Linked DNA regions of Homo sapiens: region 2 is linked to region 1. A link means that fine-mapping ties the variant in region 1 to the expression of a gene that starts in the linked region. Tissue or cell type: whole blood. Region 1 holds a variant in brackets; the other region holds the start of a gene. All regions are shown on one strand. Distances are from middle to middle.

The links. PIP is the estimated chance that this variant, and not a neighbour inherited with it, causes the effect.
Region 2: ANKRD22 starts here. The variant in region 1 is fine-mapped to the expression of ANKRD22 in whole blood (TOPMed, PIP above 0.99).

Annotation. Positions count from the first base shown.
Region 1 is chr10:88,815,361-88,823,771 of GRCh38, forward strand. It overlaps LIPM (lipase family member M), which reads left to right. Exons shown (of 9, transcript NM_001128215.1): 6 at 1-143; 7 at 1,456-1,527; 8 at 2,465-2,536; 9 at 4,872-5,186. The coding sequence ends at 5,141. It overlaps ANKRD22 (ankyrin repeat domain 22), which reads right to left. Exons shown (of 6, transcript NM_144590.3): 5 at 7,920-8,018; 6 at 4,536-7,658. The coding sequence ends at 7,581. Among named protein-coding and RNA genes, the nearest start is that of LIPM, 17 kb to the left of the region's middle. The variant A/G (reference allele first, on the strand shown) is at 4,555.
Region 2 is chr10:88,849,279-88,856,415 of GRCh38, forward strand. ANKRD22 (ankyrin repeat domain 22) reads right to left here and starts at 2,566. Exons shown (of 6, transcript NM_144590.3): 1 at 2,309-2,566. The coding sequence starts at 2,329.

The sequences.
Region 1 (8,411 bases):
TGTTTGGCAAAAAAGAATTTCTGTATCAGACCAGATTTCTCAGACAACTTGTTATTTACCTTTGTGGCCAGGTGATTCTTGATCAGATTTGTAGTAATATCATGTTACTTCTGGGTGGATTCAACACCAACAATATGAACATGGTAAGTGGGAGCCTAGTAAATTCCCAGCATCCCAGCATAAAGCTGGGAGTCATATGGCTCACCCCTGGAGGGAGAGCTAATGCCAGTGAAGACTCAGAGTAATGATATATTCTCAGTAACTCAGTTCTCTGCAAACTGTAAGGAAATAAGGGAAATGCTTCAGTATGGACTGAAACAAGGTTAACATAAGGGCATTGCTGATATTAAATCACAGATTATAGATGGAAGAGGTCTGAAAGCAGCTTTACTACAGTGAATTAAATTAAAAAGAGCAATTAGCACATGTTAGACAACAGAGACAACTGTCATGCATCATCCACCTCTACCCTGCACTGGGGTCCTGTAGGTTTGTAGTTTAAGTTCTTTGATGGAACATCAGGGACCTTCATTTTGGCTTAGGCTACCAGTTGGTATCACTGGGTGGGTTCCCTAGGAAGCATACTCTGAGATGGAGGTTAATGTGAACAATGATTTGGGTCCTGCTCTAGGGATAATACCTAGAGAAGGAAAAGAAACAGGACTAGGTAGGTGAAAAAGTCAAGTAGTGATGCAGTCTCAATAGGAGACTTAGTTGATCCTGCAGGGATTTTTGAAGATAGGATGACCCTTCAGAACCGTCTCAAGTTAGGAAGAGAGGGTTGGGTCTTTATACACCATATCAGTCAGTCATTTAATGTAGCCATACCAGTAACAGGGTAGCACTGGGCAATGTATCTGCCTACAATTGGTGCAATCCTCAAAGCAGACTGAGAGTGGAGGGCTGTTTGCCAGCAGCACTCCCAGCAGCTGGGGCAACATTTCCTTAATTCTGAATATTTTTTCTTCTTCTTTAAGATTAATAATTTGATTTATAGTAAGGATATGAAAAGTATATATTATGTATCAGGCTAATTTATTACCTATACCAAGCCTATGAGTGTTATTAATATCCCCACTTTGCAGATTAGTATACTAAGATTTAGTAGATTAAGTGACTCACTCAAATTCACCTAAAAATTAAACTGCAGAACTAGGATTTGAATACAGGCCCAATGCTAGAGCCCTCATCCTAAATATCACTAGTAAAATTTTTTTTAATTAGGGGCCAGATCTCTGATGAGAACCTATTCTCAGATGAAAAATACCGGTGTCTGGCAATACATTTAATGACATTTTATTTACGTGCATGTACATATTTTTGTTTCATAGATAATTGCTGATAACTTAATAATGTTACCATTTCTTAGTCTGACACCCTGGAGATTTGGTCTTGACAGGGTATACATCTTGTGAGTTTTTCTATGTCCCCCAGAATACTCATGGTTTGTTACAGAGCCGAGCAAGTGTATATGCTGCCCACACTCTTGCTGGAACATCTGTGCAAAATATTCTACACTGGAGCCAGGTAAGAATGTTGAATTTGCAGTCTTTGCTAAATGTCCTGTTATATTTTGTGTAGAATAGTCAAAGGACACCATTTAGATAAGCCAGGGATTATTTCACACTTATTCTAAGATGAAATGCAGTATCGTCGATGCTATTTTGATGGAGAATTTGATCTAGATCACTGAAACTTTTCAAGAAATGGGAAGAAAGGACAGAAGTAGCCTAAGAACTTCTTTAGATCTTAAAAGTATGAATTTAGATGATCCAAGTGAGACTTCTCTCTGTCTCTAGACACCTCAAAGATGTGGCTGGAGATAATTATGTTTCTACATCTTCTCTTCAGCTCCTCCAACAATACAGTCAAGTAGAAACAAAAATGCTAATGTGGGGTCTGTCAAAAGAGATATTCACAGGAGTCCTTCACACTGCAAACTTTACCTGCAATTACAGGAAACACACACCTCTGTGTGTCTATGTGGTGTGTGTGAAAGAGAGGGATGGGGGAAGGAGAGAGTTCTCTCTGTTGACAGGTAGGGAGAGACAGAGAGAGAGAGAGCAATTGTACCATCAAAACCAGAGAAGAATTATAAGTTCAATTAAATTTTGGTTGCTATCTTCCAGGATCACCACATTGCACAATTCCAGGGCACGATTCCCCATTGTAGCCCACACAGTTGTGGAGGATACCCACTCACATTAATTACAATGAAGATGCACTTCCTGGAGTTGCTAATGCAATGATCAAGAATTTATGTAGTCCCTCTTTCTTCTCAAAAGGCCTCATTCTTGTCTTACCATTTTCCTGAGACGCTTATCCCAACATTGAATGGAAGAGCAGCTCAACCATTGCTCTCTCCTTCCCTCATGAGTGCACACTGGGTAGCACATTTCCACCACCCCACCACGCTTATCCACTGAGACGTTGGAATTCCTTGTAAATTTTTGTCTCCTTTTAGGCAGTGAATTCTGGTGAACTCCGGGCATTTGACTGGGGGAGTGAGACCAAAAATCTGGAAAAATGCAATCAGGTAAGAAAATCAAATACCATCTGCTGAAAATATATACATTGGAAATGTATGACAGGGACGTTATAATGACAGTTTATTCTAGATATGGGAATAAAATATGAAAATTTAAGCAGAAAATAATGGTTCATGTTTGACTCCATTTGAAAATGGTTAAGTTCACAGCTGATCCAAGAAACCTCTCTGCTTTTACAATGGAGTAGGAGGCCTTTTTAGCTGAGGCTGTCTCCCTAAACAAGGTACTGGGCTTCTCAGGAGCAAGATGAAGTAGATTTAGTCAAGAGAAGAGTGTAGTCTATGGTGGATACTAGAAGGATTATTTTAGAATTAAAAAAAATGGGATGGTGGCAGTAAGTTTGTTTCATGGCACAGTAAAAGGAACATTAAATGGCAAGTGAGGATTGCTGTGTAAGTTTTGCCTCTGCACTATAAACTTCTGTAATAGGAGGGAGGCTGCTTTAATTTTTCAGGCTTCAATTTCTTTACCTTGAAAATAAAAATTTTGGGCTTAGAAAATCCATAGGCATTCTCCCTAGTTATACTTTAAATGAATCTGTAATTTGCAAGTTACATTTTTTAAAAATGTTATTACATTACCCAAGAAAATATGTAGCTAATGCTATGAACTAAAATTAGATATCAAAGTGTGGAGATTCAGAATTGCACAGGTATGCCCTTTAGAACATAAAATCTTCTGAAGATTTTTGGTAATCATGTGTATGAATGTAAATAAATATTTACCATAGAAACAATACTGGAAGGGGCAGATTAGACACAGCTTAGTCTTTCTTTGAGACCCTCACATCATAAATTAACATCCGCTGCCATATGTCTATCTAGATGTAAAATGCTAGGAAACTGGACAAACTGTGCAGTGCCCCTGGATAGTGAACTCTCAATCTCTGGTATCAGCTGCTTCTCTTGAAGTCTTTCTTCACTGTTTCCCAAAATATGTCTTTAGAGAAAGTATTTCTGTTCAAAGATGTTTTTTTAATTATATTTATTTACTTTTGAGACAGAATCTTGCTCTGTCACCCAGGCTGGAGTGCAGTGGCGCAGTCTCGGCTCACTGAAAACTCTGCCTCCTAGCTTTGAGCCATTCTCTTGCCTCAGCCTCCCGAGTAGCTGGGACTACAGGTGCACGCCACCATGCTCAGCTAATTTTTTTTTTGTACTTTTAGGGATGGGGTTTCACCATGTTGGTCAGGCTGGTCTCAAACTCCTGACCTCAAGTGATCCACCTACCTCAGCCTCCCAAAGTGCTGGGATTACAGGCGTGAGCCACTGTGCCCGGCCCTAAGATGGCTTTAATTTATCAACATTTAATGGACTGAGTTCTAGAGAAATTGATTCATGCAGAATAGGCACCAGAAAATGGGAGTGGAAGGGAAGAGTAAACAAACACACAAAAAAAATCATAGAATCACAGAAACTCAGAGCGAGATATGACATTCAGTTCAATCTTTTCACCTGTAAGATGACAAAAAAAATTACTAGCCCCATAGAATTTTTCAACCTTCCTTATCCAAATTAGGCCATAACTGAGCCACAAAGAGAAACCAGAGCATCTAGGATTGGAGCCAAGACTCCATGGTGGATTTCCTGAGTAAGAAATGGGCCTTACCACTTCTGAGGAAAGTTCTGGATGCTGATTAATCTCAAGGGCTCAGCCGGCTAGGCTAATTCTACTAACACTGCATAAATACGGAAAGTTCCCAGGTATTAGGAATACTAATTGGTATATTTGGTGGGGAAGGGTGAGGAATAAGGATTGGAGCAGGTATTTAACTTTTACTTCCCTTTAGCTCAAATTACCTGAGTGCCATAGGCCATGGTTCTGGCAAATGCAGTCAAGCCGGGTCTGCCTCAAAGGCTGCCTGGGATCACATAAAGACTGTGAAGATGCAGAGCCCTTCCCAGCAGATTCCTTGCTTTTCTCTGTGGAATATAATTCTTCTTTCATGAAATGTTTGTGAAATTATCTTTTAAAAGAACAGGGGCATTATTTTTAAAAACAATTT[A/G]TTTACAAAATATTTAATAGGAAGAAAAAAGAAATACAAGGCATTACATGTTTTTATGTGTTTTGTCATTTGATCTAGCAAGTTATTACAGATATTATCCCCAGTCACAGAAGAAGAAACTGAGGTTCAATAATGTTAAGTAATTTTACCTTAAAGTAAGGGCGGGAACAGAAATTCTTAACAGAGTTGTGTGGCTCTAACACCCATGTACCCTTCACCACAACAGATGGCATGTTTATTATGTCTATTTGAAACATAAATTATGAGCCTGAAAGTCCAAATGTTACCTAGAGTTAAGAACTATTCCTTTTCTCTAGCCAACTCCTGTAAGGTACAGAGTCAGAGATATGACGGTCCCTACAGCAATGTGGACAGGAGGTCAGGACTGGCTTTCAAATCCAGAAGACGTGAAAATGCTGCTCTCTGAGGTGACCAACCTCATCTACCATAAGAATATTCCTGAATGGGCTCACGTGGATTTCATCTGGGGTTTGGATGCTCCTCACCGTATGTACAATGAAATCATCCATCTGATGCAGCAGGAGGAGACCAACCTTTCCCAGGGACGGTGTGAGGCCGTATTGTGAAGCATCTGACACTGACGATCTTAGGACAACCTCCTGAGGGATGGGGCTAGGACCCATGAAGGCAGAATTACGGAGAGCAGAGACCTAGTATACATTTTTCAGATTCCCTGCACTTGGCACTAAATCCGACACTTACATTTACATTTTTTTTCTGTAAATTAAAGTACTTATTAGGTAAATAGAGGTTTTGTATGCTATTATATATTCTACCATCTTGAAGGGTAGGTTTTACCTGATAGCCAGAAAATATCTAGACATTCTCTATATCATTCAGGTAAATCTCTTTAAAACACCTATTGTTTTTTCTATAAGCCATATTTTTGGAGCACTAAAGTAAAATGGCAAATTGGGACAGATATTGAGGTCTGGAGTCTGTGGATTATTGTTGACTTTGACAAAATAAGCTAGACATTTTCACCTTGTTGCCACAGAGACATAACACTACCTCAGGAAGCTGAGCTGCTTTAAGGACAACAACAACAAAATCAGTGTTACAGTATGGATGAAATCTATGTTAAGCATTCTCAGAATAAGGCCAAGTTTTATAGTTGCATCTCAGGGAAGAAAATTTTATAGGATGTTTATGAGTTCTCCAATAAATGCATTCTGCATTACATAAAGCATGTATGTGCATTTCAGTGTCTAGATTCTAGTCCAAGCTTGTTGGAAGGTTTACAGCTTGTTGCTAGGAGACCTAATGACTAAAAATTTCTGGCTCAATTTTCTGCCTCCAAAAATTAAAAGCTAGGGAGAAAATTGCATAATGTCATGAGCATGATGAAACAAATTGTCATATACTTTATCCTTTAATCTTGACAAAGTTAATGTCAGACAGTCTCTGCAACTCATTGACAAACCATGATTTATTTCTTCAGAAAATTATTCCACTTTTACACAATTTCAAAGATGACAGTTGTAAATTACATTGGTACTATTTTGCAAAATCTCTGAAACCAAATCAAAGGTTTGTGTGTGTCAAAAGTATATTGTTGAAGGTATACTGGTGTGTGAAATTCACTTGTGTGGGTTTTTTGTCCCCAAGGGTCACCTGGTAGCTCAGCTCAATGCCAGTGAATCTTAATTTATTAAGACACGTTTAAAGACTTCAGAATCTATATCTACACACTATTACTTCCTTCATAAAATAAGTTTCTTAAATCCTGTACACAGTTGAATATATATTGCTGGATTTGATTTTCATTAGAGCTTTCAAGGATGGTAAATCTTTCATTCTTATACTGTACTTGTTACCACATACAAAGAGGCTGGCTTAGTTCCTGTCTGCAGCTATGTGAGATTCAGTCTTGATTTTCAAAATTCAGTCATATTTTTAAAGTGAATTTATTTCTACTCTGTGTCATTCACAGAAGAAGTGAGACAGATATTTTGATATTCGCAATCTCTCACTTAGACAAATAATCCAGATCCTACCTCATTGTATAGCTCTGTTTCTTTTGAAGAACTTTATCCAAATAAGTTACAATAATATTTTACATCTATCAATAAAATAAACAAAACTAACAAGCTTGGCAACCACCTTGTATTTACAAAAGGATCATGAAGATTTTTTTAAACGAACATTTTCATAGTTGCATAGTCTTGCTCAAACCAAGATGGCTTTTATTTGTAAACCGAAATCTCTAGTGGTATGCTGGTAAACGAACTTTATGGAAAGTAAAAAACAAAAAAACAAAAACAAACTCTGATTTGTCAATTTGCCAATTTCTGTGGTGTAAACACACTCACCGCTGACACTTGATAGATGTTTTTATTGAAATTCCTTCACCAAAGGAATATTTACTTGTGAATCTCTAAGCCCACACACATACACAAATACCATTCTGTACAAACATACGTATTTAATAATTTGATTCTTCTGCTCAATACTCAAAGGGGGCTGGGAGGAACAGTTTGTCTCCTAGGGCATGACATAGACTGGACAGTCTTTTTATAAGAGTGATACAACTGGGAAGGGAGAACGCTGTTTCAGAAGATAACTCAGATCCTCTTCTTCAGGAAAGACTGAGTTTGGAACACCAGGGCTTTTTTTTTTTTTTTTTTTTTTGAGACAGGGTCTCGCTGTGTTGCCCTGGCTGCTCTCAAACTCCTGAGTTCAAGTGATCCTCCCACCTCAGCCTCCCAAGTAGCTGGGATTACAGGCATGTACCACTGTGCCTAGCTGAAACATCAGTTTCTGACTGAAGTGGAGACTACAACAACTTTAGTGTTTCCCTTAGAAGGATTACGGCCATGGTGAACTTGACTGAGTAAACAATGCTATAAATAAAAAGCTCTTCCAAAACATTAACCATGGTAAGCATCATTATCCCCATAAAATGGTGGCATCCAGGTTAAATGGCCCACAGACCAAAAGTCTAAAATGAAGATAGAATCCAGTCGTTAACTTTTTCTGTATCTCCATCGGTGTGGTCACAAGGATTACAATGCTTTCCTTAGCATTAATTCAATCTGGGAAAATTTTAATCTCCGTGCAATATCCAGTGAGCTCTCACCATGCTGAGGGGGGAAAAATATACAGTTATTTCCAATAGAGTGCCCAAGATCTCGTACGTAGCTTAGACCAATTGACTCTCTGTGTTGGCAAGGGCTTTAAAAGGCAATCAGTCCTAATAGTAATAGGATAACTTCATTCCTTAATGAGGATGATTAATTTTACTGTTGTTTACGTCAGAGGCAAATAATTTACTTCAACATAAGGCCTAGATTAGAAGATGCTGCTGCTAGAGGAACCTCAGACCACGGTCCACCCTCCCTTACCTTATTCTTTATTGTGGGGTCTGCACGGGCTTCCAAGAGCAGAGGGATAAGAGACTGGTTTTTCATTTCACAGGCATAATGTAATGCGGTACAGCCATACTGAAACACAAAGGGCCAAAACTTCAGCTCATAAGTCGGGCCCTCCACAGACCATAGCATGTGGCTTCATTGGCAAATCCTTTTCACACTTTGTAGTATACAACTAAGCAGAAAAATAGTCTGCAAACCATTGATAGACAACTATTTCTAGTACTTAAAAAATTTTTCGCCGGGCGCGGTGGCTCACGCCTGTAATCCCAGCACTTTGGGAGGCCGAGGCGGGCGGATCACGAGGTCAGAGGATCGAGACCGTCCTGGCTAACACGGTGAAACCCTGTCTCTACTAAAAGATACAAAAAATTAGCCGGGCGCGGTGGCGGGTGCCTGTAGTCCCAGCTACTCCGGAGGCTGAGGCAGGAGAATGGCTCGAACCCGGGAGGCGGAGCTTGCAGT
Region 2 (7,137 bases), 33 kb after region 1:
GGTAGCAGTAGAATGTACCTCATTGGACCTGGATTTAGTTTACTCATTCTTTCCACTAAGGGAACAGGGCACCATCCTGGTTAGAACAGTGGCAGAACACCAGAGTGGTTAAGACCAATTCTCTTATGGAGCATGACATATCTGTTGAAATAACAAGTAGTAGAAAAATTTAGTAGTTCAGCAGTGATGTAAGAAGAATCTCTTTGAATGAGTAAACACAGGACTCATCCTAGCCACCAATCTCCAGCCAATAAGCACTTTTCAACTGTGTAACTATGAGCCAGTGACTACCTTTTCCTCAGTTTCTTCATTTGTAAAATAAGGATACTAAAAGTGACTCTTACAAGATTGCTGTATTAAATGAGTTAATACATATATAAAGTGCTTAAAATAGGGCCTAATCTATAAGAAGCCCTAAATACATGTTTGTTGCTATTGTAAATATTATGAACAAATACCTTTGATAAGGGTTTAAATGAATCAGCCTTGTTTAAAAGTCCATCTTACGCAGTTGGAGTTACTTATTCAAAATTAGGGCCTCTCACTGAGCTCTAAGCTTATCCTCTAGTGCAGATTTCAGGACCAGCTCTCTGGGATCCTCCCTCATTCTCTCCTTCTTTCTTAAAAATATATATTGCATAACTATTAGCACTGCAAAGCTCTAAGGAAAAATGATAACCCTATGTCCCCAATCTAGAGGAGCTTCCCGCACTCAAATTGGGGGAAGTTTTTTTTTTTTTTTTGAATAGATTCTTCCAGGCAACATAGGACCAGGGATCCAGCAGGCTTTTTTCTTGTCCTTAATGAGTAGCTCACAATCTTTATCCTTAGGAAACACAGAGCAAATGATATATTACAAATGAGTAGGCTATGTTTAAATATTTAAGAGATTACTATTTAATTTTAAAGAGTCTCAAACTCTTTAAAACTATAGATGAAAGGTCCTACTTCCAACTTTCTACATCAGAATACCTGAGGATGAGACTAGGCTTTTTTTTTTCCTTTTTCCAAATCACATATAATTCCCACATGCAATCTGAAAAAGCAACCAAAATGCAGAATCTTAGGTCCCACCCAGGTCTACAAACTAAGAATCTGCATTTAAACAAGACCTTCAGAAGATCTGTATAGACATTAAAAACGGGAAAGCACTGGCCTGTGGCAGTCTTTCTTTCTCAGGATGGTGGTAAACAGATCACCCCTATGTCAGAACCACCTGGGATGCTCCTTTTAAAAAGTATACTTTTGTATCCTACCATAGACTGAGTGAAACAGACTCTCTGGGTTGGAGTCCCTTGAAACTGCATTTCAAACAAACTTCTCTCCCTGACACTTGGGCAGTCTAAAGTTTGAGAGTTACCAGAGTAGCATTTAAAAGCACTATATGTTTTGTCATTTTCATGTATATGATCCCTTCATGAGGCTAAAATCACTGAGCAAGACATACCTAGAGTTATAAACCAATCAAACACTGCATTTGCACACACGGAGAGATATATACACACATGGCATTAGAAATAACTGCAAATAAACTGTCTTTAATACTAGATCAAAACTATCCAAGAAGGTTCCCCTGAGCATCTGCAATGAAATGCAGATTAACCAGTTAATTGTGTCAGAGGAGAGAGAGAGTAAATTATGTATAATGACATCATTACACCTCTTGTACTCTTGTCTAAACATTCCTTGCTTGTACTTTCTTGAAACATCATTAAAAATCCATTTGATTCTAATAAGTTACTTCCAATACAAGTAAAAGTACCTCAGTATTTATCAGATGTGAAAAGAAAATAATCAAATCATCAAAATATGTTATTATTCCTCTTCTTCATAGTGATAGTCTTTACTAATATTTACTAAAGGTGAATCTCCCTTCAAATACCAAGCTGAAAGGCATTACTCTGGTCATGTGGTTCCATAAAAGAGGCAGTCAATCTTTTGGATATTTAGAAAATCCAATTGAGTACAATTTTCTCTTTTTCTCTGAGTGTTTGTCATGAGAAAAGCACAACTCAAACTCGATTTTGTCCAAATTATCCTTGCAAACATCCAGATACTATGAAATGTGTATTATATTCATCTCAACTTAGATCTAGCTAATATTTTAGAATTACAAAATACTTTGTCTTAAACTATTAAGAATATCAACAAGAATAACACATAGGACTTTATTTTTTCTGACTTAATGCTCCCCCAGGGAGTTGAACAGACAAAACAGAAATATATTAACAGGGATAGAAAATTGCATCTGAAAAGCATGAGTAACTTTTAACATCTTTGGAACTCTGCTTTCAGAAAGGTGATGTACCTCAGAGTATAGGATTCCCATGCTGGTCCTTCACAGGCTTACTTCACCTCTACAGCTCCTTGAATCTTCTGGAGGTATTTCTGATGAATATCAAAATCCTTCCTGGCTGAGAGGAAAGTCCCTAGAAGTCCAAGCTGGTGGCAAGCTCCAGGAGTGCTTTTCTAGCAAACACCTGTCAGTGCTTTTCCAGCAGCTCAGGCAGCAGCACACCTTCCAGAGAGCCCAGCCCAATGAAACAAAGGCACTGGTGTCATGTGTAACGACCCAAGCCTGTATCATCTAATGTTACAACCCTGAGGAGCCGGTTTCTGAGTCATATTTGCTCTGCCAGTGGTAACATGCAGGAAAGAAGGAAGCAAAGTTAAGGGAGGAAGAAAAGTTCTTACATTGGCAGGAAGGACTCACGGTTCAAACCAAGATACTGTATTTCAGACATTTCGTAATCAAAATCTGGTTTTCAGTGGCCATTGAGAAAGGCTAGAGACCAACAAACTTACTTGTGAGAGCCACACGTGTCTGGCAAAGAACTTGAAAAATAATCTTCAAAATTCTCAGCCTAACAAGTAACGCTTTTCCAGCTATTTATGCAGTTTTGTAAACTAATAAATTTACTAACATAATAAATCTTAAGTTGTTTTAAATATTCCAATACTATTCACACATTTAGCCAAATTACTTTATAATATTCAATTTAAAAATCATAAGTCTAAAATCAAATACTCTGTTATGCATTTTAAATTGCATCATCAATTTATTTATCAAACATGCTAGTATGCCCAATCTCTTAAATATTGTAAACATTTTATATGCTATATATGATATCATTCACACATTTTCCTTGAACTGAATACAATCACATCAAACTTTCCCAGAATTGAAACACTCGACCGTCCACACACCCATTATAACCATGGGACCAGCCCAAATGGGCCGTACTTTGTTGATAACAAATGTCAATTTACTCTGTAGATATAACAGAGCCAAAAACTGTAAGTCATTTAGCCCAGGCATGCACAATAAAAATGTTTTTGCCTCTAACAGAACCTAGAACAAATGATCCCTCCCCTGGGAACCAAGAAGACAAGGACATGACGGGAACCTAAATGCAGGACCTCTTTCAGAAGCTAGGGGCTCATTGGCCCAAAAGATCCAGGGCTGAAATCTGCCTCAACATACCTTACCTTTAGTGGTCAAATTTGAAGCCCTTCAATCAGTCCCTGCCAAACCAACATTCCTAAATCCTTTCCCTCACCCTCTAAGCCATACATTTTCTCAGATTCCAAACTGGGGAGGCAGATTTGAGCCCACCTCCTGTCTCCTTGCTGACCTGTCTTGCAATAAAGTTTTTCTTTCCTCAAAACCCAGTGTCCAGATATTGGCTTCTGTGAGCAGGGGGCAGCAAGCCTATTTGCTCAATAATATCATGGAAGAAATAGTTCAACCATCTCAAACCAATTGATGTGATTTTCCCAATCAGTTGAGGCTCCTTAGTGGCCAGAAACTAGTGACCAGGATACTAGGCCTGTGCTTATAAATATTCAGGGAAATTCTTCTTACTCCACTGGTGGATATACTGAGCTATTTTTATAATTATTTCAAAGATTTTATGTTTCACTATGCAGTTGACATCGAGGCCAGCCTCTCTGGAGTTTAAGAATTAGCTAATTCTTCCGTTGGAGGAGAGGGAAGTCTGCAATACCCACTAAAATTGCAGCTGACTTCCTCTTTGGCTTGGTTTGATTTTGTATTTCTGTAGACTCTTAAGACATTTAAGTGTCTTCCCATTGACTTAGAAAAACATTAATGGTATATCCATTGGGTACTTCACTCTGTTATGCAATATTTTGTAACCTCTGGTAGCCTCTTTTGTAACCTCTTTCAACTAATTTGTGTGGACAGAACTCTTCACTGTCATTGCTTCTCTCCTAAGGTTGCTGCTAGCTTTCTTCTTCAAGCTCTTTCCTCCCTGACTGAGCTCTAAATGTTTCTTTAACTTTCAATCAGGATCAAAACTCATTTTATTAGATTCTGCATCTCTTGACAACATCTGGTTCTAAAGGAACAGTACTCATTATAATTGCAAATGATGTAGGGTTAGCTCAAAAAACAAACCAATGAAAAAAGCAGTTGACTCATTGTTATTTGTAAAACACTTGGATTTAACTCTAGGCCATTGGGTCTCAACCAGGGGTTATCTCGCCCCCAGATAGACTGCAGATTTAGCAACGAAAAAGATAAGATGTTCAGTTAAATTTGAATTTCAGATAAATTTCTGAAATGTCATATGGGACATACATACACTAAAAAATTATGTTGCTTAATGGAGAACGTCGTTTTATTGGAAACTAAAGACATTTGGCAATGTCTGGAGACATTTTTGGTGGTCACAACTAGGAGTGGGAGCATGGTACTCTAATGTGGGGAGCAGAGGCCAGGGAAGCTGCTAATCATCCTACAGTGCACAGGACAGCCTCTCAGAGCAAAGAATTACCCAGCTCAGAAGAGTGCTAATGTAGAGAAACTCTAGTCTAAGCCAAAAGGAGAATTAAAGGTGAAGGAAGAGGACTTCGTAAACTATAGTGTCAAATTGGAATACGGAGGCATATTGTCAGAATGAAGTTGGATAAACAGATATATTTTTAAGTGTTTAGGGTTCTTCCTCTGGCAATTTTGAGCCTATAATTACAAAGACAGGTAAAGAAAAGAAGTTCCAGAAAACAGCTTTCACAGGTAAATGTCTTCTGTCAAGAAATAACACTGTCAAGAAGACAAATGTCTTCTGTCAAGAAATAAACCTAGTGTTTAATCTGAATTAAACACTAGGGACTTAAAATTAGTGGCATCCTTTGATCCTGGCTGTAAATGCAGCCAACCTCCACTGACCAGCAGCCAACTGTCTGTGAGAGATGAGTCTCTTGTAAGGTGTATCCCAAAGACTTCCCCCCAAGAGGGGTTCAGTAGAGCATAACAAAGAAGTATAGTCCACAGAAACTCAGTTTTACGCTGATATCTTAATCCTTCAACATTATCTAACATTGTCCAACATTGACATTAGCAGTGGAAGTTATCTGAGTCACACGGCACCAAAATATGTCACCAGCCAGCAGTGAATCTGTGTGGGTTTGCAGCAAACTCAATTCTTGCCTTCTCAGAAGAAAGAATTCAACTGGGGGCCATAGGATGGAAGAAGAGACCAAGGCAAGTTTTAGAGCAGGAGCGACAGTTTATTAAAAAGCTTTAGAGCAGGAATAAACAAAGTAAAGTACATTTGGAAGAGGACCAAGTGGGCAACTTGAAAGACAAGTGTGCAGTTTGACTTTTGACTCGGGGTTTTTATACGTTGGCATACTTCCAGGGTCCTGCATTCCTTCTCCCCTGATTCTGCCCTTTGGTGGGCTGTCCACATGTGCAGTGGCCCACCAGGATTTGGGAGGGGAGCATGCACAGTGTGTTTACTGGAGTTGTATGCATGCTTACTTGAAGCACTCTTCTCTTACCAGCTGAATGTCCCTAGAAGGTAATATACCAGTTAAACTCTGCCATTCTGCCTCTTAATGTGCATGCTTGAACCCACTCGCCCAACTCCTGAGATCTTATCAGGAAGCTGCTGATCACCAGTTTCAAGTTTTTTCTGTCTATTGGGAGACTGCCTTTCCCTGGCACTGGCTGTGACCAATTGTTATTTTATATATATATATATATATATATATATATATATAATTTTTTTTTTTTTGAGATGGAGTCTTGCTCTGTTGCCCAGGCTGGAGTGCAGTGGTACAATCACAGCTCATTACAACCTCCACCTCCCAGGTTCAAGCGATTCTCCTGCCTCAGCTTCCAGAGTCGCTGGGATTACAGACACCTGCCACCTGTATTTTTGTATTTTTAGTAGAGACGGGGTTTCACCATGTTGGCCAGGCTGGTCTCAAACTCCTGACCTGAGGTGATCTGCCCACCTCGACCTCCTAAAGTGCTGGAATTGCAAGCATGAGCCACCACGCCTGGCCCTCAACTATTATTTTAGAGAGACGGTTAACAACCTCCTTACTATCACCTGATGTTCACCTGACATTCCTGGTGGGTGGGGGGAGCCCTCTCCTACTCTGCTCATGTCTGACTAGCTACTTACTGTAAAATTGGCTCCCATTGGAGAGATTTGAGTAGAGGAGTGTTGTAATCAGAATTTTATTTATATAATAAAGCTCACTCTGGCTGTTGTACAGAGAGTGGATCTGAGGCAGGAAAAAAGAAACAGCAACTAGTTAGGAGGTTATTGCATTAGGTCAGCTGCATGATAATAGTTACCTGGGGCAGAAGAGCAGCAGTGTGGATAGAGAGAATAGGATAAACTCTAGAGTTTAGGAGGTAGAAATAACAGACTTTGCCAACTATGAGTTATTAAGCTATCTCCTAGCATTGAACACACTTTTCTATGTTTGGTTCTTCAATGCCTACCCTGGCATTCTGCAAGCTAGCTTTTTTTTTTTCCTACTGGTATGTGGAGACAAAATTAACTTCATCTTGGATGCTAATCCACCATGTTGACTTCTCATTAACCCCAGTCCCATAAATGCCTTCGGATTCCTACTTTATTTACTGTCCTTAGTGTAAGAACACATACTTACTGTAAATCCTGCCTTTAGACCAAAGCAAACTTGATGTTATCACACAAATATAGGTTATGATGCACACAGCACTCTTGCCTGTTCTGGGGGGTTGTCTTTAATTGTCTCTATAGAGCATGTATCCCCTTTCCTTATGATATATAAGCCCGGGGTCTGGGGTGTATTGGTGTGGAGATCTATTTGTCTTGCTACTGCAGGCCACAC